4 linked regions of the Homo sapiens genome follow. The protein of the gene in region 1 binds, or shares a complex with, the protein of each later gene. Each region holds a gene or a part of one and is shown in the gene's direction. Other genes may lie near its edges. The genes, in order: EFTUD2, BUD13, DHX16 and CWC22.

Region 1 (7,042 bases):
CAGTGCTCCAGGCCCTGCCCTGCCAGCCTGGTGGAAAAGTCTTTCATCAACCTGGGGGATGAAGGAAACCCACCCTCCTGCATATCTGGCCATCCGGGAGGCTGGCTGGACCTGAGCTGATGGCTTGGGACTTTCCCAGGCCCAACCTGCACAAGAACTGAGTCTCTAGGGGAAAATTCAACACCTCAAATGATGTAGTATTTGATCATTTGTTGATTACATGTCCATTCATTGGTTTGGGGCTATAAACATTCTTGTTAAGAGCTGTGGAGATCAGTGTTTGTTTACCATAAAGATTTTGCTTTTTCCCTTTTATGAGTGGAGGCTGTAACTGGTATAGCCAGCATTTGGTTGGGCACACACTCATCTCTCAAGGCCAGTGGGCTAGAGGCTTGGCAGACTCTAAGGGTGGGAAACAAAACCGCTCTCAACTTCCTGAGCTCTTGACTGTCCATGGATACACACAGTTCAAAACAGCGAGACACTGAGGGACTGGAGAAGTGGGGAAGACTTGATTCCTGTTTTTGCTCTGAAAATTCCAAGTTGAGAAGGGAACCAGGTGTGGGTTTCTTATTATGGTCCTGCAGAACCCCCAAGACAACAACCAAAAAACTGCCTCCAGTGACCACTGGGACCTCTGAGGGTAGCTTGCCGCATCAGTCAACCTGGTACAGCTCCAGCAGCTCCTGCAGGAGCCTCTCCTCCTCCTGGAGCCCACCAGACTGCTCCTCCAGACCCTGCTCCTCCCAGCTGAGCCCCTCCTTCACGGATCTGGGGTTGCCCATGGCTTGCAGCTTCTGAAACAAGCCCTTGCAGCTCTCTCTCTCTGCCCGGCTCAGCAGGCTTAGGTTCAGGGTGAAGCGCCCAGTGCTCGCCAGGCTGCATAGGATCCCCAGCACCGCTGCCCGGTCAGCCGGCCCCACGTGATCAGCCAGTGCCACCAGCAGCTCCCCAAGAAGTCCAAATCCCACATCTGTCTGGAAGAGGCAGCCGAGCCTTGGACCCCCAAGCTGCAGTAGAGCCTGGTAGCGCTCTGGCCCACTTGGCAAGTGTCGTCGCCAATCACGATAGAAGTCAGCAGACGTCTCGGGCTGGAGGGGGGCTTTCTCCTGGACCACAAAGGAAGGAAAGGGAGTCAGGAGCTCTTCCAGCTGTTCTGCAACAGTGACAGGGAGGGGAGCCTGTAGCTCTTCATCTTACTGTCTTCATCTCACTACTGTCTGAGCACTGGGAAAGCTGTGGTCCTTGGCGGCCTCATTTTCAGATGAGGAAACTGGGGATGAAACAGGGAGGGCCCCAAGGAATCCACGCCATGATTTGAGATTCTCATTTATACTGGAATTTTCCTACTCATGAATGGAGACATAGCTCTGGTCTTCAAGAGTAAGTCAGGGTTTACTGTAAGTCGGGTGGATGGGTTGATTGGAAATCTCAGGAAGAGAGAAAGGAACTCAAGGATCTGAATGTTGGGGTCTCTCTCTCAACACTGCCACAGGATCATTACACTAGACACCATACAACCCAGAGGCAGAGCATCCCAATTCTGATCTGAGAATGAAAGTCAAAGGACTAAGGGAAGCCGACCTTCCTAGCCCAACTTTCTGACTCATTCTGCCCACTTCAACTCAGCTTTGCCATCTGCTGTTTGTTTTTCTTTCTGGGATTGGAGGCAGAAACCTATCTCTGTTGGTTTAACATGACAAATAAAGAAGAGGTATGTGTGGTTAAAAAAACAAAACAAAACAAAACAAAATGAAAAAACAGGATTGAAGCTTTAGGGCAGAGAATCCTGCTGGACTAAAGGGGCAGGGCCTCACCTACCGGGGAGATTTCAGTGGCCACATCCTGGAAGGTCCTTCCCTGAATAGTGTGACAGTTCCAGGGCACAGTTCTCTTTCCTCCCATCTTATCCTTCCGCTCCAGTGGCTTCAGATGTGATGCAAGGACAATACCCCTGTAGGCAAAGGACAGAAATTAGGCAATGGACTTAATGCTGTGTCTGTGGGTGTGAGGCAGCTAGACTTTGCATGGTATAGGATAAACCTGTTACGGACCAATATGACCATAATAATAACAACAGCGATAGCTGACTGCTTTCAAGCACCTCACATGTGTCAGACACTTGCTCAGTCTTATGTGCAAGAACTCATTTAATTATAACAGTTACTGTTCTACAGATAAATAATTGAGACTCAGAGAAGTTAAGGAAATTGCATAAGATCAAACAGTAGACGGTGGGGCCAGGACTGAAGCCCAGAATGGTTTGATTTCAGAGTTAACTACTATAATCCACCATAACAGGAGGGCCTGAGAAAAATGGCAGTGAGCCAACCTGAACTCCTCATAGGAAGCCACCCTCTGTTCCACTGCCCGTAACTTGGCAGCATTCTCCCGTTTGTACTTCTCATCAGCAGTGAGTGCAGCCTGCAGCTCTTTCTCCAAAGCCTTGAAGTTGATGATGTCATTCCTTTCCATGGCCTGTGCCTGGGAAGGCAAAGGGAATACATGTCAGTGGACAGTCAATATCAGGGGAAAGAGGGTACCTCTGAATTATTCACCAGAACACAAAATGACCCCAAAGCACTCTGGACATCATGTCACTCAGATTGGGAGGTGTTACAAAAATCTGGTTTTCTATTTTACAAAGACAAGTTGAATTTCACAGTGAGGACTTACACAAGACTTGTCCCTGAAAATAGAATACAGAGTCCTGACTTTCAATTTGGAGTTCTGTCTTAATTTTGCTCTTTGCCTCTAAAAATATTTTTAATTTTGGTGCTTCAGTCGAGGAGGCATTGGGATCTCAGAATTCAGTTTCTTCACTCTTCCCCCATAGGATTGTTCTACAGCAAGTCGTTTCGACAGGGGACCTCACACAAAGGCAGAACTCTTGTTAGTTACCCTTGAGCTCGGGGATAAAGTTTCATTCTTCATTGAATGTCTTTAATGAGGAAGGAGACTTTCACCCAAACCAGATGCAATGACTGAGCAGGAAATCAAGTAGAAGGGGCAAAGGAAGGAGCTCAATGACCCCATCCCCAAATCCCTCTGTCCAGCCCAGGGCTGGAACAGAGGTCCCTAGGTACCTGGGCAATGCCTTTAGTTCTATCACTGTACTTCTGTAGTTTCTGCATATCTGAGGCTGACTGATCATTTCTACAGAGATATTCTTTTCTTTTTTTTTTTTTCTGGCTCTGTTGCCCAGGCTGGAGTGCAGTGGCGCGATCTTGGCTCATTGCAACCTCTGCCTCCGGGGTTCAAGCAATTTTCGATCCTGACCTCAAGTAATCCGCGCGCCTCGGCCTCCCAAAGTGCTGGGATTACAGGCGTGAGCCACTGCAGAGAGATTCTCTACGTGGGTTCTAGTCGTGGCTCTGGCATTTACTTGTGGGACCTCTCTGAACTGCAAACTCCTAGTGAGTTGAGCTAGATTTTGTGGCGGGGTCATCACCAACAGCCCTAGCGCAAGGAAGCAGGAAGTCCCCAACCAATCCCATAGCCACCCTACCCCAACGTAGGGAATCTGAACGCCAAGAAGGGGCTGGGGTGGCCAGTAACCGAAATCAGGTGTCCAGTTCTCAGCCCTCCCCAGGCATTTAATACATAGAACTAACCCTTCCGTCCCCTTACTCAGCCTCCCGGACCTTCACCCCAGCAGTCCCGGCCTTGGTCCCCTTGCTTTCTTTGGGGATCCCCTGATAAACCAGAACAGGAGGGCAACCCCGCGCAGACCACGCCCGCAGCTGTGGTTGCCTAGCAACTGCGCTAACAGCCTGACCACGTGATCTGCCCGAAGGCCCCTCCCCCCATTTTCAGGGTGGTCCCGAGGCGCCTGATCAGATTCGTTCATCCTCAGCTCTCACCCTCTTTGGAGCAGCCCACGTCTTGGGCTACTCGTCTTGGGGACCCGCTACTCCGCCTTGCCAGTCCGCGGCGGGCATACCTCGGAACTGGTCCTCAGGCAGAGGGTTGTCCTCCCGGGCAGAAAGGCGACAGCGGCGTCTGCGGGGTCCTTCCTGGCGGCGGGCGCAGGCGTTTCCTCGGCGTGGGGCGGAAGCACGATCTCCGGCAGCGGCCTGGGAACTCTTAGCTGAGCAGGCGAGAGGTAAGTTGAAGCGGGTCAGCGGCACGGAAGGGTTGCTCCAGGTGGGATAGGAAATTAAAAAGCGTCAGATCTGGAAGGGGCCTTATATGCTATTGGCCCCTTTCGCTTTACGGATCGGTAAATTGAGGCCTGGAGCGGGAAAAAGAATGGAAGACCCTGTCGTCCTCGTGCCTTCCCAAGGCTTCCGAAGCGCGCACACACGCACACACCTCGATTTCGGGGCTGCCTCTATAGCCTCAGTCCGTAAAATCGTATCGCTAGGTAGGAGTGGTGCTCTAACTGTCCAGTCCCCTCGCTCACTTCCTCTTCTATCCGTGCCGCTTTCAGCCGTTCTTTGCCAAGTTCCCTCCGAAGTCCTCTGAGCTCCTGCATTGTAGCGGGAAGCGGCAGTGAGGTTTGTTACCATGAGTCGCTAGTTTTGTGTAACTGTGGGCAAATCAGCTATATTCTGTGTACCTTGTTAGAGTCATTCATTAGTTCAGTAAATACTTATTGAGGGCTTAGTCTATGCTAGGCACAGTACTAAGTGAACAAAGTCTTTGCTTCAATTGTAGTTGGGGAAATGAACAGTAAACAACTAGATACAAGTCAGCTAGTGATAAATGTATAACATTTGTGAATAGCAATAAAACAGTGAAAGTGGGAAGTTGGAGAGTATGTATGGGGGACTTTTTAGAGTGACAGAGAAGATGACATTTTAGTGGAGACTTGATTGAAATAAAGGAACAAGGTGAAAAATATCAAAGGGGAGAGCGTTTTGGACAAAGAGAAAGGCAAGTGCAGTGGCCCTGAGGCAGAAATGAGCTTGGCTTGTTCCATGAACAGCTTTCTATAACAGTTTCTTCAATCGGCCGGGCGCGGTGGCTCACGCCTGTAATCCCAGCACTTTGGGAGAAAGACGCGGGCGGATCACCTGAGGTCAGGAGTTCGAGACCAGCCTGGCCAACATGGTGAAAACCCATCTCTACTAAGAATACAAAAAAATTAGCCAGGCGTAGTGGTGCACTCCTGTAGTCCCAACTACTCGGGAGGCTGAGGCAGGAGAATCGCTTGAAACCAGGAGGCGGAGGTTGCAGTGAACTGAGATCGTGCCGTTGTACTCCAGCCTGGGCAACAAGAGCAAAACTCTGTCTCAAAAAATATATATAAAATAAATAAATAATTTCTTCAATCCCTTGACTGGGGTCTTGGGAGAATGAGATAAGCATAAATGCGATAGTAGCTTTTTAGAAGTAAAAAGAATATGCATGTGAAAGTTTCCATAATAATTTACATTTAATTATTGGTCCTTGGAGCTCCAATTCTCTCTCTACATTCAGCACCCAGCAGGTGGCATTGAGGGAGTTGGAGGTATCAGTCTAATCCAAGAAATATCAGCATCTTAAAATTAAACATCCCATTCAGTTAACATTTATCCAGTTCCTACTTATGCAAGGTGCTGTCTTGGCTATTGGCTGTGTTAGCATTGGTACTTTTTTCTCAATTATTTAAAAATGTAAAATGTGGCCGGGTGCGGTGGCTCACACCTGTAATCTCAGCACTTTGGGAGGCCGAGGTGGGCTAATCACCTGAGGTCAAGAGTTCGAGACTGCCTGGCCAACATGGTTGAAACCCCGTCTCTACTAAAAATACAAAAATTAGCCAAGTGTGATGGCGGGTGCCTGTAATCCCAGCTACTTGGGAGGTTGAGGCAGGAGAATCGCTTGAACCTGTGAGGCGGAGGTTGCAGTGAGTCGAGATCGTGCCACTGCACTCCAGCCTAGGCAACAGAGCGGGACTCCGTCTCAAAAAAATAAAAAAATAAAAATGTAAAATGCATTCTTAGCTGGAGGACCATGCAAAAACAGTTGGAGGGGCCAGATTTGGCCACAGGTCAGAGTTTGTCAACTCTTGCTCTAAAGTATTAGGAGGTGAAGAGGCATTGTGTCAGCAGCATACTGTCAAATATTTGGGGAAAAGAAAGTTATTTGTACTGTTCTTGCCACTTTTTGGTATTATTTTAAAATTAAATTTAGTATCATAAAAGAAGTGAAGAGAAGAAGCAGGTGCATGGAACACAGGGTTCTCATGATCAAGGATGGCAAAAAATAATGCTAGCTAACGTTTATTGAGCCTAGGACTCTGGTAAATTCTTTTTTTTTTTTTTTTTTTTTGAGACGGAGTCTCTCTCTGTCACCCAGGCTGGAGTGCAGTGGCGCTGTCTCCGCTCACTGCAAGCTCCGCCTCCTGGGTTCACACCATTCTCCTGCCTCAGCCTCCCCAGTAGCTGGGACTACGGGCGCCCACCACCACACTTGGCTAATTTTTTGTATTTTTAGTAGAGACAGGGTTTCACCGTGTTAGCCAGGATGGTCTCGATCTCCTGACCTCGTGATCCACCCACCTCAGCCTCCCAAAGTGCTGGGATTACAGGCGTGAGCCACTGCACCCAGCTGGACTCTGGTAAATTCTTTACACAGGGTGTTTTATTTAATCCTCATAACCATTTATTCAGTGAGGATTATTCATTCCATTTTCCAGTTGAAGAATAGGAATCAGGTTGGAAGAGATGAAGTAACTTACCTCAAGTTACATAGTTGTTGGTGACAAAGTTGGGATTTGAATCTAAGTCTTCCAACTCCAGAGCCCTGATGCTCTAGTCTGTTATTTATTGCTTATAAACTATAGTTGGTGATGGTAATTAGTAACTACTATTTGTTTATTTATTTTGTTTATTTTTTTCGAGACGGAGTCTCACTCTGTCAGCCAGGCTGAAGTGCAGTGGTGCGATCTCAGCTCACTGCAACCTCTGCCTCCTGGATTCAAGTGATTCTCCTGCCTCAGCCTGCTGAGTAGCTGGGACTACAGGTGTGTGCCACCACACCTGGCTAATTTTTTGTATTTTTAGTAGAGACGGGGTTTCACTGTGTTAGCCAGGATGGTCTCTATCTCCTGACC
Region 2 (7,034 bases), on another chromosome or scaffold:
CTCCCCCAAGGAGGCCTCAGCATAATTCTTCAGGTGCATCTCCTAGGAGAGTCCGTCATGATTCACCAGATCCCTCTCCTCCTAGGCGAGCCCGTCATGGTTCCTCAGATATCTCTTCCCCCAGAAGGGTCCATAACAACTCCCCTGACACATCTAGGAGGACTCTTGGCTCTTCAGACACACAGCAACTCAGAAGGGCCCGTCATGACTCCCCTGATTTGGCTCCTAATGTCACTTATTCCCTGCCCAGAACCAAAAGTGGTAAAGCCCCAGAAAGAGCCTCTAGCAAGACTTCTCCACATTGGAAGGAGTCAGGAGCCTCCCATTTGTCATTCCCAAAGAACAGCAAATATGAGTATGACCCTGACATCTCTCCTCCACGAAAAAAGCAAGCAAAATCCCATTTTGGAGACAAGAAGCAGCTTGATTCCAAAGGTGAGCATATGACTGTCCATGAGAGGGATGTATGTATCCCTGGGAGCTTTCTTTTGGCCGTTTAGTTGATTTATTAGGTATAAGAATGGAATTTCTTTGGGAAAGTTTTGAAAAGTGAGAGGCTGGGTTTGGGAGAGTTGAACAATTATGGTGGCAGGGAGGAAGGTTTTCATATGTCTTTTTATGTGCTCGCTCCACCCCATATAAAAGTACAATTTATTTGTTGCAGAAGCTTTGGAATGTACAGAAGTATATAAAGATAAAATGTGACACAAAATTCTGTCATTCAGAGGCAATTATTGTTAGTGTTGTGGCCAGGGTCATCTTAGTCTTTTTTGGTTTGCATTTTTTATATAGTTGAGCTCTGGCTGTGTAGAACATTTGTATTGCATGTGCAATCTTGCCTGCTGTCCTTTCTTAACGTAGTCTTCCTCAGGCCATAAAACATCTTTATGTTAGTATAATTTTTAATAGTGTTTAATTACAAATTTAACCATTTTCCTAATAATGAATGTTTTTGGTTATTTCTAAGTTTTTTCTTCTGTAATTCTATAATGAACATCCTTGTACATAAACTGTTGTCCCCATTTTGGATTATTTCCTTATCTACTTCTAGATAGATTTCCTCGAAATTCAACTACTTCTATATAAGTTTCCTAGAAAGCTGAGAAGTTGATGTACTGGGTCAGAAGATGTGGGCGTTTTAAAGACTGTCGATACATATTGCAGAATGCCCTTTGGGAGGTGACTTGTGATGCTTATACAGTCGCTAGAACTTAGGCCTGTGCAGTGAAATTTTTTACTCCCTCTTTTGTTCCTAGGAACTATTTTAATTTTAAAATTAAAGTACTTTGTTATCCTTTAGTCCAAGGATATCAGACTATATTCCAGGTATTTCTGACTTTTGCCACACTATGGAGAGCTGACTACAAGTTATTTTGTCTTTCCATGGGTGGGGTTACTGACATAGAGGAGTGTGTGGAGATTTTACACACCAGTTACAGTCAGTGGTCACTTGGGAATAGAATGCCATATTCTACCTGTTGGTCTTAAAAGTTGTTTCTGACTTTGCTCTTCTCCTGTGCCATCCATACTTATGTTTAGGTTAATGATAATTCTTCATAGGAAAACTAAATAAATATTGTACATTAGCTTGGTAAGTTATCTTTTTAGATTCTTCCAAGGGGATTAAAGAACTCTTTGGCCAGGCATGGTGGCTCAAGCCTATAATCCCAGCACTTTGGAGGCCGAGGTGGGCAGATCACCTCAGGTCAGGAGTTCAAGACCAGCCTGGCCAACATAGCGAAACCCCATCTCTACTAAAAACACAAAAATTAGCTGGGCGTGGTGGCACACACCTGTAATTCCAGCTACTTGGGAGGCTGAGGCACAATAATTGCTTGAACCCAGGAGGCGGAGGTTGCAGTGAGCTGAGATCATGCCACTGCACTCCAGCCTGAGACTGTCTCAAAAAAAAAAAAATAATAATAATGTAAGGAATTCTTTAATTTCTAGGTTCTTCTCCCAGCCATAGGAGATTTCATGTAAGTTCTTCACCTAGAGGACATCAGAGTCACACAGATTCTTTGCTCCTATCCAGGTGACTGCCAGAAAGCAACTGATTCAGACCTTTCTTCTCCACGGCATAAACAAAGTCCAGGGCACCAGGATTCTGATTCAGATCTGTCACCTCCACGGAATAGACCTAGACACCGGAGCTCTGATTCTGACCTCTCTCCACCAAGGAGGAGACAGAGGACCAAATCTTCTGATTCTGACCTGTCCCCGCCTCGAAGGAGTCAGCCTCCTGGAAAGAAGGTCAGGATTTTCAGGAGCCATGTCCTTCTTTTCGTGTGACTCTTCTCTCTCAGCTTTATATATGTCCCAGAGAATCAAGCCAAGAAGAAGGATGTAGCTCTGAGAAGTGTAGTAAATCTTAGTTAAAAGGACCTTTGGAGGTCTTTCCTTCTGAAGGCAAACTGGCTATAACCCATCCCAGATGGACTTACAGATACCAGATTTCCCAAGTAGCTTCTGCGTTTATAGCCTCTTAATTCTACAATCTCATTTTAACAGGTCTAGAAAAACTTCCTATTTTCTTAGGAATAAACCGAGGACTGTAATTTGCAGAGTGAAGTTTGGAGCACAAGCATTGTGTCAAACGGATCACATACAGAAATTCTCCTTCTGCCACTTACTGTCTGTGAGATTTGGGCAAGATGCTTAATATCTCTAAACCTCAGTTTCTTTATCTGTAAATTGTGGATAATAGTAGTACCTACTGTGTAAGGTTGTTATGATAATTAAGCCAGTGTAAGTAAAACTCTTAGCACAGTGTCTGGGACAAAGTAAGCATCTAGTGTTAGTGATTTACTAGTATAAATTGGACTATAGGTCTCTGTATCCAGAGCTTAAGGAGAGGCACTTAAAATATGAAACCACTTTTAGAAATCATGTTGTCTGAGAAGTCAATGGTTTGTTTTAAATTCATGATAAGGCTTGATGAATTAGCCAAAAAACCCCAAAATCCATATGAACCTTGAGTAATTATATTGTAAAGAACATTGGTAGTAGTAAAGGAATCTTATTTGTAAGTGGTTAAGAAACAGAATGATAGAGCCTGTGATGTGCATTTTTCTCCCCAGTGCAGACTTATCAGGTAAATCTTGTCTGTAGAAGACTCTGAGAAGACTGGTCCTGGCAGGGTAGACCAGCCTGTTCTTTACCCAGGAAGTGAGATTCTTCTTTTTTAGGGAAAAAAGAGGTCTCTGTTTCAGCTGGACCTCTTGGCATTTTATATATCCATTTAGTTCATGGACAACTTAATATTATTCCAATTTCGTTGCTGAAGGATATCAAGATATACTGTGTGCTTCATTCGTGGGCTGATTTGCTATCTTGATGCTAAGTGGAAATTAGCAAAAAGTTTTCATTTGTTAGATCTTCTGTTATTACCATGAAATATATCCACAATTTAAGGATCTTAGGTTTGCTTGAGTTTGTACTGTAAATGGAATATTTTATCAGTATGGGTCTCTAATGGAAGGCTTAGTGCTTTATACTGGTTTCTGATCAGATGACCTGAGATAGTCTTCATGTGTGCAGTTTATATACTGAAAAGTCAGAAATACAAATGCGTAGCCCTCCATTTAATATATTGTTAGTGTTTCTGCTTATTCTTAAACTTGATGGTTTTGATGATGGTTTTCTTTTATAGTTTTTGAATCCTATGGTAATTATTGAGAATATAAAGCTAGAGTTTTAGGTTTAATTATTGCTGGTCATTAGACACAAATGCAACTAACTGTGTACCCATGGAGCCTACTGTCACATCATCTCATTAATGTTGGATGCTCCCTTTTCCGTTGCATAGGCTGCACACATGTATTCTGGGGCTAAAACTGGGTTGGTGTTAACTGACATACAGCGAGAACAGCAGGAGCTCAAGGAACAGGATCAAGAAACCATGGCATTTGAAGGTAAAAATATGAAAGTGCAGAGACCAATTTAGGCTCATACTGTTTTTTTTTTTTTAATTTAGCTTATTGTACCTGATATTTTGAACTTTTAATTGCTATCAAATTTCAGCTCTGGTTTTATGCATTGTTGTAATTTCTCAGTGAATCCCAGTGCTTCTTTCCTTCTTGAAAAATGCCATTTCGCCCAGGCGCGGTGGCTCATGCTTGTAATCCCAGCACTTTGGTAGGCCGAGGCGGGTGGATCAGCTGAGGTCTGTAGTTCAAGACCAGCCTGGCTAACATGATGAAACCCTGTCTCTACCAAAAATACAAAAAAAAACTAGCCAGGCATGGTGTTGCATGCCTGTAATCCCAGCTACTCAGGAGGCTGAGACAGGAGAATCGCTTGAACCTGGGAGGTGGAGGTTGCAGTGAGCCAAGATCGCGCCACTGCACTCCAACCTGGGCAACAGAGTGAGACTCCATCTCAAAAAAAAAAAAAAAAAAAAAAGGAAAATGCCATTTCTTGGGCCCAGTGCCAATATGCACCAAGATGTTGGTAGGAACTACTTTGGTCTGGCTGCAGAAGTTCTTATCTAGCATTAGAATCCCAAGCGGTTGATTTGATCTCTTAGAATGTTATTTCTGATTTTGATCCTGATATTTGAGTATAATTTTCCTTTGCAGCTGAATTTCAATATGCTGAAACCGTATTTCGAGATAAGTCTGGTCGTAAGAGGAATTTGAAACTCGAACGTTTAGAGCAAAGGAGGAAAGCAGAAAAGGACTCAGAGAGAGATGAGCTGTATGCCCAGTGGGGAAAAGGGTAAGGGAACCACTGAAAGGGTAAACAAGATGGCAGTGACTGGAACAAGTCATTTCTCTGCTCTTCTGATCACTCACTTTCTTATTATGCCTTCAGAGCTGTTATCAGTAATGGGAAATTTGGTGTGCTGAATCTTCTTCCTAGGATATTGATATATTCCACGCTTCTAGTGGGTATTCTGGGAATTTTACCCTGCTCAGTATTTGCCCTAGGGTACTAGAAAGAGGAGATTGTCCAAACTTAGCAGTATGGTCCATCTCGTGTAGAAGTGGAAATGTCATACAGGATAGCAAACACTCTTGGTTCCTTTTTGCCCAGGCTTGCCCAGAGCCGGCAACAGCAACAAAATGTGGAGGATGCAATGAAAGAGATGCAAAAGCCTCTGGCCCGCTATATTGATGACGAAGATCTGGATAGGATGCTAAGAGAACAGGAAAGAGAGGGGGACCCTATGGCCAACTTCATCAAGAAGAATAAGGCCAAGGAGAACAAGAATAAAAAAGGTGGGACTTCTGGGAATCATCAGCTGGAGGTGACTTGTGAAGAGAGAATCATTAGGATGCTGATACATAGCTATATGCAAAGAAGGATTTCCCAAATAATTTAAATTCATTGTATTTGTGAGTTTAGATTCAACTCAATTGGTCTTTCTATATAAAAATTTTTCCAGGCCAGGCGCAGTGGCTCATGTTTGTAATCCTAGCACTTCGGGAGGCCGAGGTGGGTGGATCACCTTAGAGTTCGAGACCAGCCTGGCCAACATGGTGAAACCCCATCTCTACTAAAAATACAAAAAAAAAAAAAAAATAGCCGGTCATGGTGGTGCACGCCTGTAATCCCGGCTAGTTGGGAGGCTAAGGCACGAGAATTGCTTGAACCCAGGAGGCAGAGGTTGCAGTGAGCTGAGATCGTGCCACTGTACTCCAGCCTGGGCAACAGAGTGAGACTCTACTAAAAAAAAAGGAAAATTCCACATTGCCATCCAGCTCTGAATTAAACTATGTCATTAACTGAATACTTTTTTCTTACTCCTCTCATTAGTGAGACCTCGCTACAGTGGTCCAGCACCTCCTCCCAACAGATTTAATATCTGGCCTGGATATCGCTGGGACGGAGTGGACAGGTAAGCCTGGGTATTTCTTACATTTTCTACCTGACTGTAACCTTCCCTAACCACTCGTAAGTTGCTCCACACTTTATTTCATTCTCTGCTTTAATCACAAGGTGAAAAATATGCACTTTGCTTGCTTCTTTTTCTGAGGTCCACAAATCCTATTTCTCATGCTTGGAACACTCCTCCTTCTGTTTCCTTTTCATAATACTTTTTAAAGCTCTGGACAAACACCTCAGGTGGTTCAGATAAGACACCCTTTGTTTTGGACATTGGTTACTTTTAATGATATTTTGTAAGGTTTAGAGGGGTTGAGTGATGAGTTGTAGTCTGGAGCCTTCTACCTGATATATCTTTAAAATGTAGCCTCTGAATCTTTATTCACTTTATGGTTTTAGGAGGCAGTCACTTTTAATGTCTTCCAGTCCTCTACCCCACCTCATCTGTCTACCTACCAACATCTGTACCCACGTACTCTAACTTCCTGTTATGATGGATGAATATTTGCTTCCATCCAAAGTCAGTTTGTATACTCACATATTAGATCCCATCTCCTCTTGCCTACTAAAGGACATTGTTTTAGTATCTAGCACAATAATTCTTAAACTTTTTAATCTCAGGACCCTTTTACAGTCTTTTTTTTTTTGAGATGGAGCCTCGCCCTGTCGCCCAGGCTGGAGTGCAGTGGCGCAGTCTCGGCTCACTGCAACCTCTGCCTCCTGGGTTCAAGCGATTCTCCTGCCCTAGCCTCCCGAGTAGCTGGGATTACCGGCGCCCGCTGCCACACCCAGCTAATTTTTTGTATCTTTAATAGAGACGGAGTTTCACCATGTTGCCAGGCTGGTCTCAAACTCCTGACCTCAGGTGACCCGCCCACTTCAGCCTCCCAAAGTGCTGGTATTACAGGCTTACAGGATTACAGGATTACAGGTGAGCCACCATGCCCAACCACTCTTATTTTTTTTTGAGGCAGAGTCTTGCTCTGTTGCTCAGGCTGGAGTGCAGTGGTGCAATCTCCACTTCCCGGGTTCAAGCAATTCTCATGCTTCAGTGGCCTGAGTAGCTGGGATTACAGGCATGTGTCACCATATCCAGCTAATTTTTGCATTTTTAGTAGAGACGAGGTTTTGCCACATTGACCAGGCTGGTCTTGAATTCTTGGGCTCATATGATTGTCTGCCTCGATTTCCCAAAGTGCTGGGAT
Region 3 (7,034 bases), on another chromosome or scaffold:
CTGACCATTCAGCTTAGGCACACCATCTCCAAATACCTTCCCACCACCTAATTCCTGCACCCCTTATGTGGCTTTGTGATCTCCCTGTGTCTTCTCACTGGACAGGGACAGAGCCCTTGTAATTCATAAACTGGACTTTTTATGGTGTGAAACTAGGTAGGGTAAGCTGTTTTCCAAAGGCCTGGTCTTGTCAAGTAAAGTCACACTTAGATTCCCCAATACCCCAATAGAATTTTGAGACTCTTGAAGTTCCTTTTTTTTTTTTTTTTTTTTTTTAAACCTTTTTTCTTTTTTTTGAAACGGGGTCTTGCCCTGTCACCGAGGCTGGAGTGCAATGATGCGATCTCGGCTCACTGCAACCTCCGCCTCCTGAGTAGCTGGGATTACAGGCGCACACCACCACGCCTGGCTAATTTTTTGTACCTTTAGTAGAGACGGGGTTTCACCATGTTGGCCAGGGTGGTCTCGAACCCCTGACCTTGTGATCCACCTGCTTTGGCCTCCCAGAGAGCTGGAATTACAGGCGTGAGCCACCATGCCCAGCCTTCTTTTTATTTGTTTTGTTTTATTTTTTATTTTTATTTATTTATTTTTGAGATGGAGTCTCACTCTGTTGCCAGGCTGGAGTGTGGTGGTGCGATCTCAGCTCACTACAACCTGTGCCTCCCTGGTGGAGGAATCAAGCGATTCTCCTGCCTCAGCCTCCTGAGTAGCTGGGACTACAGGCCTGCAGTACCACACTCGGCTAATTTTTTGTATTTTTAGTAGAGGAGATTTCATCATGTTGGCCAGGATGGTCTTGATCTCTTGACCTTGTGATCTGCCCGCCTTGGCCTCCCAAAGTGTTGGGATTATAGGCATGAGCCACTACGCCTGGCCGTTTTTACTTTTTAAAATTCATTTATTTATTTTTTTGAAACAGAGTTTTGCACTTGTTGCTCAGGCTGAAGTGCAGTGGCGTGATCTTGGCTCACTGCAACTTCCACCTCCCGAGTTCAAGCGATTCTCCTGCCTCAGCCTCCAGAGTAGCTGGGATTACAGGCATGAGCCACCTCGCCTGGCTAATTTTGTATTTTTAGTAGAGATGGGGTTTCTCCATGTTGGTCAGGCTGGTCTTGAACTCCTGACCTCAGGTGATCCACCTGCCTCGGCCTCCCAAAGTGCTGGGATTATAGGCGTGAGTCACCACGTGCCCGGCCAACTTTTGGAGTTCTAAGAATGGCCTACTGGTTCCCAGGTCTCTCCTGACCAATTTATCTCATATCTCTTCCTGAAATTGACTGTGGTTAGGCTTCTGGGACATCTCAGTGCAGTTGTGGTGGTAGTGGTGTTACTGTTTTGGCCTGAATTTAATTTTTCGGGTTTTTTTTGAGACAGAATCTCATTCTGTCGCCCAGGCTGGAGTGCAGTGGCATGATCTCGGCTCACTGCAACCTCCGCCTCCCGGGTTCAAGTGATTCTCCTGCCTCAACCTCCCGAGCAGCTGGGACTACAGACATGCACTAGCATGCCTGGCTGATTTTTGTATGTTTAGTAGAGATAGGGTTTCACCATGTTGGCCAGTCTGATCTCAAACTCCTGACCTTTGGCGATCCACCCCCCTCGGTCTCCCAAAATGTTAAGATTACAGGCGTGAGCCACTGTGCCCAGCTGTAATTTTTCTTTTTCGATTACAAAAATATTTAAGCACATAGGGAAGTTGAAAGAATAGAACAAAGAACACTCATAGACACTATTCAGATTGAAAAATGGTTAATACTATGGGTAGTATTTGCATTGTAATTGTAAATGTGGTATGTTTTTTCTTTTCAGACCATTTAAAAGAGTCTTAGACATCATGGCGTTTTATCTCTAAGTACATCAGTGTGTACCTGCTAAGGATAAAGATATTGTCCTCTAAAATCAGAATGCTCTTGTCACAGTCAGGAAGTTGAACAGTAATTCTTATGTATCGACTAAGATCTCTCTACAATAAAAGATACCCTCATTACCCTCAAAATAACTTTAATGACTGCTTTTTCCTAACAAGAATGCAGTCAAGGTTCATGCATTGCATTTGGGTCTTAGATGTTAAGTTTGTTTCTCTCTCTGTCTGTCTCACCTTGCAGTGTCCTACATTCTGGATTTGCCTGATTCTTATCTTGTGGTGTTAAGTACTTCTCTGCCCTGTGCTTTCTTTGAAGCAGGAATTGGGTCTAAAGCTTATTGACACTCAGATTAAACAGTTGTGGCAGGAACACTTCTTGGGCGGTGATGTGCACTTCATATTATGTCATATCACGGGGACATACTATCCAGTTGTGTATCTATATATTAGTATTAATATCCTTTCTACCAATAGCCTTTCATCAAATGCTTTTAGAAGCCACTGGTAATCCTTTCCTGAACATGTTATTTTTATTGGGGATTGCAAAATGGTGATTTTTTTTTTTTTTTTTTGAGACAGAGTCTCGCTCTGTCGCCCAGGCTGGAGTGCAACGGTGCGATCTCGGCTCACTGCAAGCTCTGCCTTCCGGGTTCATGCCATTCTCCTGCCTCAGCCTCCTGAGCAGCTAGAACTACAGGCGCCTGCTGCCACGCCCGGCTAATTTTTTGTATTTTTAGTAGAGATGGGGTCTCACCATGTTAGCCAGGATGGTCTCGATCTCCTGACTTCGTGATCCTCTTGCCTCAGCCTCCCAAAGTGCTGGGATTACAGGCGTGAGCCACCGCGCCCGGCCGAAATGGTGATTTTTTGATTCTGTCATTCCTGTTACGTGTATTGGCTAGAATTTGTCTATAAAGAAGAGCTTTTCCTCAACAACTAGGAACAAGCTACAGTTCCTTCTTAAAAAGGGTAAATGTTTGTTTCCTTTTAAATACGAATTTTTAGAGTAAGGCGTTTGCTGTAACAGTCATTTCACTGGTGACAGATTTTTTTCCCTTGTTTTTTGTTTGTGTGTGTCAAATTGGACTCATGAATTTTTATTTTTCAGTATTTTATAATCTCACATCATTATTCTTTTTAATGCTCAAATGGCTCTGATTTTTTGCCCATATTAAAAAAAAAATCTATCTGGCTCTTCCATGGAAGGAATATTTGACTGTGGTACCCAGATTAGGTCATGATCATAAACTGCATTTTAAGTCTTTACAGAACAAACAAGAAAAGCCAAACAACTAAATAGAACCAGGCCCCTTAAGGGTAGAACAGCAGAGGGGCTTTTTTTTTAAAGATGCAGTTTTGTTCTTGTTGCTCAGGCTGGAGTGCAATGGCGTGAGCTAAGCTCACTGCAACCTCCGTCTCCCGGGTTCAAATGATTCTCCTGCCTCAGCCTCCCGAGTAGCTGGGATTACAGGTGCCCACTACCATGCCCAGCTAATTTTTGTATTTTCAGTAGAGACGGGATTTCACCATGTTGGCCAGGCTGGTCTCTAACTCCTGACCTTAGGTGATCCACCCACCTCAGCCTTTCAAAGTGCTGGGATTACAGGTGTGAGTCACCACGCCCACCCAGCCACCAGAGGGGCTTTGACCTTGCAGTAGAGGAAGTTGTGATCACAGAGAGGATGATGTCATAGTGGGAGGACTCCTGGCAGGAAAGGGCCTTATAGATATTGCCAGTTTTCTGCTGTCATCCATAATGTGTCCTGAAAAGTTTGTATCAAAGGTAAATGTGTAGAAACTAAGTGAGACACAGCATGGTGAAGAGAGGTTAGTACCAGAAAGCCAAACATCCCTGATTACATTTGCCTTACAGAAACACTCTGATGCTGTAGTCCTAACTTTTTATAATCAGTTTTTCTCCCTTCCTCAAACTACAGTCATTCCGTTTAAGACCAAAGAACATCTAACTGGGGCTGAAGATTGCCTCCTGTTGGCCCCCTCACTGGTTTCTATCTTTGTCTGAATTGTTTTCGGTTTGAGTCCTGTGCTTCTAAATGCTGGATTAGCCTTTTATTTTCCCCCTTTCCACTAATTTGAATAAAATGGCAAGAGTAAAATATAAGCTACGCAGACATCTCCCTAGTGCATCTATATTAACAAAGATGATAATGCTGCCTAAGAGGACTTTCCAGCTGGATTCTGCTGCAGGAAGATACGATGTGGGGTCAGCATGTAGCATCCAAAGAGGCCCAGATTTGAGTATGTCATTGTTTTGGTTGTGCATTGCAGAGGGAAGGTAGAGGGTGCATCCTGAGGTTCTCATGCCTGCCTGTCAGGGGATTTTTCCCTTGTAGGGATTGGTAGAGAAAGGGGTTGCTCCTCCAGCAAGATGAGGATTCGACTGTCCTTTCCCAACTCAGGTCCCTGAGCTGCGGAAGAAATCTCGCCGAGAGTACCTGGCTAAGCGGGAGCGAGAGAAGCTTGAGGACCTGGAGGCGGAGCTGGCTGATGAGGAGTTCCTTTTTGGGGACGTGGAGCTGAGCCGGCACGAGCGGCAGGAGCTCAAATATAAGCGGCGAGTGCGGGATCTCGCCCGGGAGTACCGGGCAGCTGGGGAGCAGGAGAAGCTGGAGGCCACCAATCGCTACCACATGCCCAAGGAAACCCGAGGACAGGTGAGGTGAAGCGGCGTCTGCTTCAGCCTTGGTCCCCAAGACAAGTTGTGGGGAAGGCTTCAGGGGATTGGGCAACACGTGGGTCATCCCCTTTCTTGCCTTGCCGTTCCCAATGGGCAGTGGGCGGGGGTAGTAATGGGAAGAGGGGAGAGGGCAGAGAGGACATCCTGTTTTTGAGTCTTCACATATCCCCTCTCTCTGTAGCCAGCCCGAGCTGTGGATCTAGTGGAGGAGGAATCAGGAGCCCCTGGGGAGGAGCAGCGGCGCTGGGAGGAGGCGCGGCTTGGGGCAGCGTCCCTGAAGTTTGGGGCCCGAGATGCTGCCTCTCAGGAGCCCAAGTATCAACTGGTGCTGGAGGAGGAGGAGACCATTGAGTTTGTCCGGGCCACTCAGCTCCAGGGTGATGAGGTAAGAGGGGAGCTGGGAGACTTTCTGAGGAAGACCCGTAGCGAGCTATTTAGCTCACACCTCCTTCTCTTTCCTTAGGAGCCGTCAGCTCCACCCACTTCAACTCAGGCCCAGCAGAAAGAGTCCATCCAGGCCGTCCGCCGCAGCCTCCCGGTGTTCCCATTTCGAGAGGAGCTCCTGGCTGCTATTGCAAATCACCAAGTCCTCATCATTGAAGGCGAGACAGGCTCAGGGAAGACCACCCAGATCCCGCAGTATCTCTTTGAGGAGGTACAGTCATCTCACCCTTCAGCTTGCCAGGGCACCTGGCATCAATGTCCTCATTCCTGTCAGAGCTCCTTTTACATTATATTTTTAGTAGTCACTTACCTATCTTTTCCACTAAATTGTGAAATTCTTGAGAGTAAAGACCATACCCTTTTCACATTTCTGTTCTCACTTCCTGCATTCATTTCATTTGGAAGGACGGGTAGATGGATAGGTGGAGTGGGGCGTGTATAAATGTGGACCTCCCTATGCTCCAACGTGGCCAAAAAACAAGGAGTTAAAGGACTATTTTCCTGCCTTTTTGTTAGTTTTTTTTTTTTTTTTTTGGAGACGGAGTCTTGCTCTGTCACCCAGGCTGGAGTGCAGTGGTGCGATCTTGGCTTACTGCAACCTCTGACTCCTGGGTTCAAGGAATTCTCCTGCGTCAGCCTTCAGAGTAGCTGGAATTACAGGCATGCGCCACCACACCTGGCTAATTTTTTAGTAGAGATGGGGTTTCACCATGTTGGCCAGGCTGCTCTCGAACTCCTGACCTCAAGTGATCCAGCCACCTCAGCCTCCCAAAGTGCTGGGATTACAGGTGTGAGCCACTGTGCCTAGCCCCTGCCTTATTTTGGAGACAGGCTCTTGCTCTGATGCCCAAGCTGGAGTGATGTGGCACCATCATGACTCACTGCAACCTGGGACTCCTGGGCTCAAGAGATCATCCCACCTCAGCCTCCTGAGTATCTGGGAGGTGCACACCACCATGCCCATATTAAACATTTTTTGTTTTTTTTTGAGGTGGAGTCTTGCTCTGTCACCAGGCTGGAGTGCAGTGGCGCGATCTTGACTCACTGCAACCTCCACCTCCTGGGTTCAAGTGATTCTCCTGCCTCAGCCTCCTAAGTAGCTGGGACTACAGGTGCGTACCACCACACCCAGCTAATTTTTGTATTTTTAGTAGAGATGGGGTTTCACCATGTTGGCCAGGATGGTCTCAATCTCCTGACCTCGTGATCTGCCCACCTCAGCCTCCCAAAGTGCTGGAGTTACAGGTGTTAGCCACTGTGCCTGGCCTGAAATTTTTTTTTTTTTTTTTTTGAGACAGAGTCTTGCTCTGTTGCCCAGGCTGGAGTGCGGTGGCATGATCTTGGCTTACTGCAACCTCTGTCTCCCAGGTTCAAGCGACTCTCCTGCCTCAGCCTCCCAAGTAGCTGGAAATACAGGCATGCACCACCATGCTCGGCTAATTTTTTGTATTTTTAGTAGACGGGGTTTCACCATTTTGGCCAGGCTGGTCTCGAACTCCCAACCTCAGGAGATCCGTCTGCCTCGGCCTCCCAAAGTGCTGGAATTGCAGGTGTGAGCCACTGTGCCTGGTCAAAATTTTGAATTTTTAATTTTTTTGTCACACTATGTTGCCCAGGCTGGTCTCGAACTCCTGAGCTCAAGCCATCCTCCCACCTCAGCCTCCCAAAGTACTAGGATTACAGGCATGAGCCACTGTGCCCAGCCTTCCTGCTTTTTTACCTTAGCTGGCTCTGTCTCAGCTAATCTGTTCTTTTCCAGCTCAAGTCTAGCAGAGTCATGAACTTAATTACCCAGAGCTGGGTGAGGACCCCCTTTGAGGGCCCTAGGTCTGTCATCCTATCTATTTGCCCTTCTTTTCTGGTTTTCAGCATCTGTCTTTTCCTCCTTTTCTCCTGCCTGGTTTTTACAACTTCTTTCTCTGAAATGTACCTGGTCCCAGGGTGCATATTTAGTAAAGGGCAAACTTCTTCTTTTTTCTTTGTCATTCAGGGTTATACAAACAAGGGTATGAAGATTGCCTGCAC
Region 4 (3,956 bases), on another chromosome or scaffold:
GAAAGTATTGTCCCTCTTCCCTCATTTATTTATTTAGTCAACTGTAAATATCAATATAGACTCACGGTTATTTATCTTATCCTGTGGGTTAAAGTCCAATACTGTCATTTATTTTGCTCAAATCATCTTAGCTTTGGCAATTAGGAGTTCCTTCAACTTGATTTCTGTGTGCTTTTCAACATTTTTCAATGCAACATTTTAAAATTGTATCTGGCATTTCTAGTTATTTTCAGCAGGAGCACAGGTTTGCCACAGTCTTCTCTATCCTACCTGGAAGTGGAAATGCTATAGTAAAAGATGTTTTCAAAGTTTGATCTGGTTCACAGTTTCTGAAAAGATCTGTGTTGTTTTACCCAAGGTCAGCTCTGCTTTCTTTCATTACAGTATCTTGGTCCAAATAAGGGATTGTCTGCTTATCCTACATGCATGTCATTTCTCATTTTGTTTTGTTTGGATGCAATATTTCATCAAATATGGCATCAATACTTTCCTCTGTAGCCTTAAATTGAAAGGCCAATCTTTACACCTTTGTTCCATAGCTTGTTATGTTTCAAAGTGTTTTACATACTGTGTGACATCCAGAATTGTGGGGCTGTTTTTTTAATTATCAGAGAAAGATTGTTTGCTTACAGGAACTTTTATTCATGAATTGAAGTGTACAAACATTGTTCATTTAACATTCACCATTTTTATATTCTACAGAATTTGTTATTTCATGGTATCCATTTTGAGAACAGATGATAACACAGCATGAATTGCTGCAATAAGGAAGCTTGCTGATTCAAAATTAATTTGCCTTCTCATATAATTTCAGTAGAGAACTTTGTTTTATTAATAAAATACTAAATAGCATAAAAGCAGCATGAACTGCCCCAAAATTAGGAAATTATAATGCAAACATAGCAAACGGAGAAGAGATTGCCTCTTGTTACATGGCTGGGTTTTAATATCAGTAAAGCCCGACAGTGGTGTACAGTAGGATCAAGGGGACGCTGGTTTAGCACAGAGCCAGATGGTTTCTGCTTGGGTAGCTGCAGCTCAGCTGAGCTGTTTGATAGGAACCAGAGAAATAGGTCCTTAGTGGCAAACCAACTGACTGTACCATGTGCCAAAGATATGCATTTAGCGGAAGAAATAGAGGCTGGTACAGTGAGATTTAGGTAGAATTAGGGTGACAAGAGGCACTTTTCTATCATATTTTCTCTTTCTTGCCTATGTATGAATTTGAGAGAAATTTTTGTTATCTTAGCATCTTTGATTTGTGCACCCAAATTAAATAACAGATAAACTGATTAAGTTTGTTTTATTGCTTAAAGTGGTTATTTCAGTATAACCATTTTGTATTTATAGTTGTGATTACATCAGCAAAATCAAATTGTTTGAGGTCTTTTCAGAAGAGTTTCTACAGAAACTAAGCCTTTGTGGCTCTAATAAAGCCCATGAGTGTAAATCTTAACATATCTGCTCTTGTTGGTGCAGTTAGTGCCTCTCTGATAGTAACAGAGGGGAGAACTATTGTTTTTGCAGGAAGAGACCTTTCATTGAGAAATATATGTTCATGCTGTTAAGCAAACCCAGTTGTTCTACTCCTCCTATGTTTAGGAAGTGAATGCTAGTTTGGGTGATCATTGTATTTTGATCTGACTTAATAGTCCTATGAATAACACTCTATGGGCTGGAATTTCAGCTTTTGGATTCAATTTGTTAAGTAGAAATGTACCATTTGAGTCGCTTTCTAAAATTTTTACATTTGCTATAAAATTTCTGTTTACTGTCTTAAATCTCGAGATCAAAACAGTACTTTGGTAACTAATGTTGAGATATTATATATTCCCCTTCCTCCCTCCCCTCCCCTTCCCCCCCCCCCTTTTTTTTTTTTTTTGGACAGAGTCCCACTTTGTTACCCAGGCTGGGGTGTAGCGGTGCATTCTTGGCGTACTGCAACCTCTGCCTCCCAGGCTCAATTGATCCTCCCACCTCAGGCTCCTGAGTAGCTGTGACTACAGGCTGACGCCACCACAGCTGGCTAATTTTTTGAATTTTTTGTAGAGAAGGGGTTTCGCTACGTTACCCAGGCTGGTCTCCAACTTCTGGGCGCAAGCAATCTGTCCCCCACCCCCTCTGCTTCCCAAAGTGCTGGGATTATAGGCATGAGCCACTGTACCTGGCCTGAAATATTGTATATTCTTAAAAGGCCGAGGCAGGCAGATCACCTGAGGTCAGGAGTTCGAGACCAGCCTGACCAACAGGGAGAAACCCTGTCTCTACTAAAAATACGAAAATTAGCCAGACATGGTGGCAGACGCCTGTAATCTCATCTATTCGGGAGGCTGAGGCAGGAGAATCACTTGAACCCAGGAGGCGGAGGTTGCAGTGAGCCGAGATTGCGCCACTGCACTCCAGCCTGGGCAACAAGAGCAAAACTGTCTCAAAAAATAAAATAAAATTAAGCATTTGGTAAGACTCTGTGTCATCAGACTTTCTATTCAATCAATTTGGCTTTGCACCTAGTTTATCTGAGTTAGTAAACCTACACTGTATCAGTAAATGTGATTGTTATAATTATGAAATTAAGATTGAAATAAAAGCTAACTGTCTTTTATTTTACACACGCAGCTAATGATGTAAGAAAGAAGGGACATGGGAAGACCAGAAGTAAAGAGGTAGATAAATTGATCAGAAACCAGCAAACAAATGATAGGAAACAAAAAGAAAGAAGACAAGAACACGGGCACCAGGAAACAAGGACTGAGAGAGAAAGAAGGTCAGAAAAACACAGAGATCAAAATTCAAGTGGTTCAAATTGGAGAGATCCTATAACAAAGTACACATCAGACAAAGATGTTCCTTCTGAACGAAATAACTACAGTAGAGTTGCGAATGACAGAGACCAAGAAATGCATATAGATTTGGAAAATAAGCATGGTGATCCCAAAAAGAAGAGAGGAGAGAGAAGAAATTCTTTTTCTGAAAATGAGAAGCATACACACCGAATTAAAGACAGTGAAAATTTCAGAAGAAAAGATAGATCAAAGTCAAAGGAAATGAATAGAAAGCACTCAGGCTCAAGAAGTGATGAAGATAGATATCAAAATGGTGCCGAGAGACGATGGGAAAAATCTAGCAGATACTCTGAACAATCCAGAGAATCAAAGAAAAATCAGGACCGGCGAAGAGAAAAGTCTCCAGCAAAACAAAAATAATTCTACAAAATGACATAAACTGGACATGCCTTATATTCAGTTGAAACAAATTATTTTTTACTTTGACGAACTTTATAGAGAATTCTTGTATAAAGTATTGGTTTGTATTTGTAAATTTAAAAAATGTTTTCATTTTAACATGTTTTATAATTGATACATCTCAAGGCCCTACCCATAAAATTATTTGAAAACTTTCACCAGAAAGGGATGTAAGTCTCGCTTATATTTTGTGAATAAAATGATCAAAAGCTCATTGATTCAGTGATGTTTTTTCAATTGACAAAATATTTTTTTAGTTGTTTAAGAAGCTGTTATAGTGAATTATCAGTGCTTTTTTGTTTGTAACTGAAGACCAAAACAGGTGAACCTTTTCAGTTTAACAGTTTTGCTTTGTTAATGAGATGTTATGAATCTTTTTCAGGTAGTCACTTTTTTTTTTTTCAGTAGAGGATTTGTTACAATTTTCATATTAGGCTTTGAACAAAGTATGTAATGTGTAATTTTTTTCACAAGTGTTGGTAAAGCTAGGTGTATGTTACTCTTTAAACCAATACGCAGTTATTTATAATTAGAACTTCTCCCACAGGAAATATTTCTTCTCTCTGGACTCCTTGATATCATTTAATTGAAATTCTTTGTGATTAGTGCATTTTTCTCAGCCTTGAAGTTATATCACTGTTGATGAATTAATGTGTATTTAATTTTTAGTTTAGGTTAATAGATCATTGGAAAACATATAGTTGTGAAATATGC

The links.
Region 2: EFTUD2 (region 1) and BUD13 share a complex: the UniProt entries of both Homo sapiens proteins name them as parts of the minor spliceosome.
Region 3: EFTUD2 (region 1) and DHX16 share a complex: the UniProt entries of both Homo sapiens proteins name them as parts of the minor spliceosome.
Region 4: EFTUD2 (region 1) and CWC22 share a complex: the UniProt entries of both Homo sapiens proteins name them as parts of the minor spliceosome.

The regions. Positions count from the first base shown.
Region 1 is NC_000017.11:44,896,432-44,903,473, reverse strand, and holds the start of EFTUD2 (116 kDa U5 small nuclear ribonucleoprotein component), read left to right. Parts: upstream 1-4,028; 5' UTR 4,029-4,105; exon of another isoform or gene 4,106-4,499; intron 4,500-7,042. Other genes in the region: DNAAF19 (dynein axonemal assembly factor 19), read right to left, coding at 657-1,109, 1,822-1,954, 2,333-2,475. UniProt on the Homo sapiens protein: Required for pre-mRNA splicing as component of the spliceosome, including pre-catalytic, catalytic and post-catalytic spliceosomal complexes. Component of the U5 snRNP and the U4/U6-U5 tri-snRNP complex, a building block of the spliceosome.
Region 2 is NC_000011.10:116,755,954-116,762,987, reverse strand, and holds part of BUD13 (BUD13 homolog), read left to right. Parts: coding exon 1-435; intron 436-2,035; coding exon 2,036-2,253; intron 2,254-3,808; coding exon 3,809-3,914; intron 3,915-4,580; coding exon 4,581-4,719; intron 4,720-5,037; coding exon 5,038-5,222; intron 5,223-5,760; coding exon 5,761-5,842; intron 5,843-7,034. UniProt on the Homo sapiens protein: Involved in pre-mRNA splicing as component of the activated spliceosome. As a component of the minor spliceosome, involved in the splicing of U12-type introns in pre-mRNAs.
Region 3 is NC_000006.12:30,662,987-30,670,020, reverse strand, and holds part of DHX16 (pre-mRNA-splicing factor ATP-dependent RNA helicase DHX16), read left to right. Parts: intron 1-2,693; exon of another isoform or gene 2,694-2,836; intron 2,837-3,207; exon of another isoform or gene 3,208-4,126; intron 4,127-4,287; coding exon 4,288-4,542; intron 4,543-4,746; coding exon 4,747-4,950; intron 4,951-5,028; coding exon 5,029-5,220; intron 5,221-6,999; coding exon 7,000-7,034. UniProt on the Homo sapiens protein: Required for pre-mRNA splicing as a component of the spliceosome. Contributes to pre-mRNA splicing after spliceosome formation and prior to the first transesterification reaction.
Region 4 is NC_000002.12:179,944,376-179,948,331, reverse strand, and holds the end of CWC22 (pre-mRNA-splicing factor CWC22 homolog), read left to right. Parts: intron 1-2,616; coding exon 2,617-3,203; 3' UTR 3,204-3,456; downstream 3,457-3,956. UniProt on the Homo sapiens protein: Required for pre-mRNA splicing as component of the spliceosome. As a component of the minor spliceosome, involved in the splicing of U12-type introns in pre-mRNAs. Promotes exon-junction complex (EJC) assembly.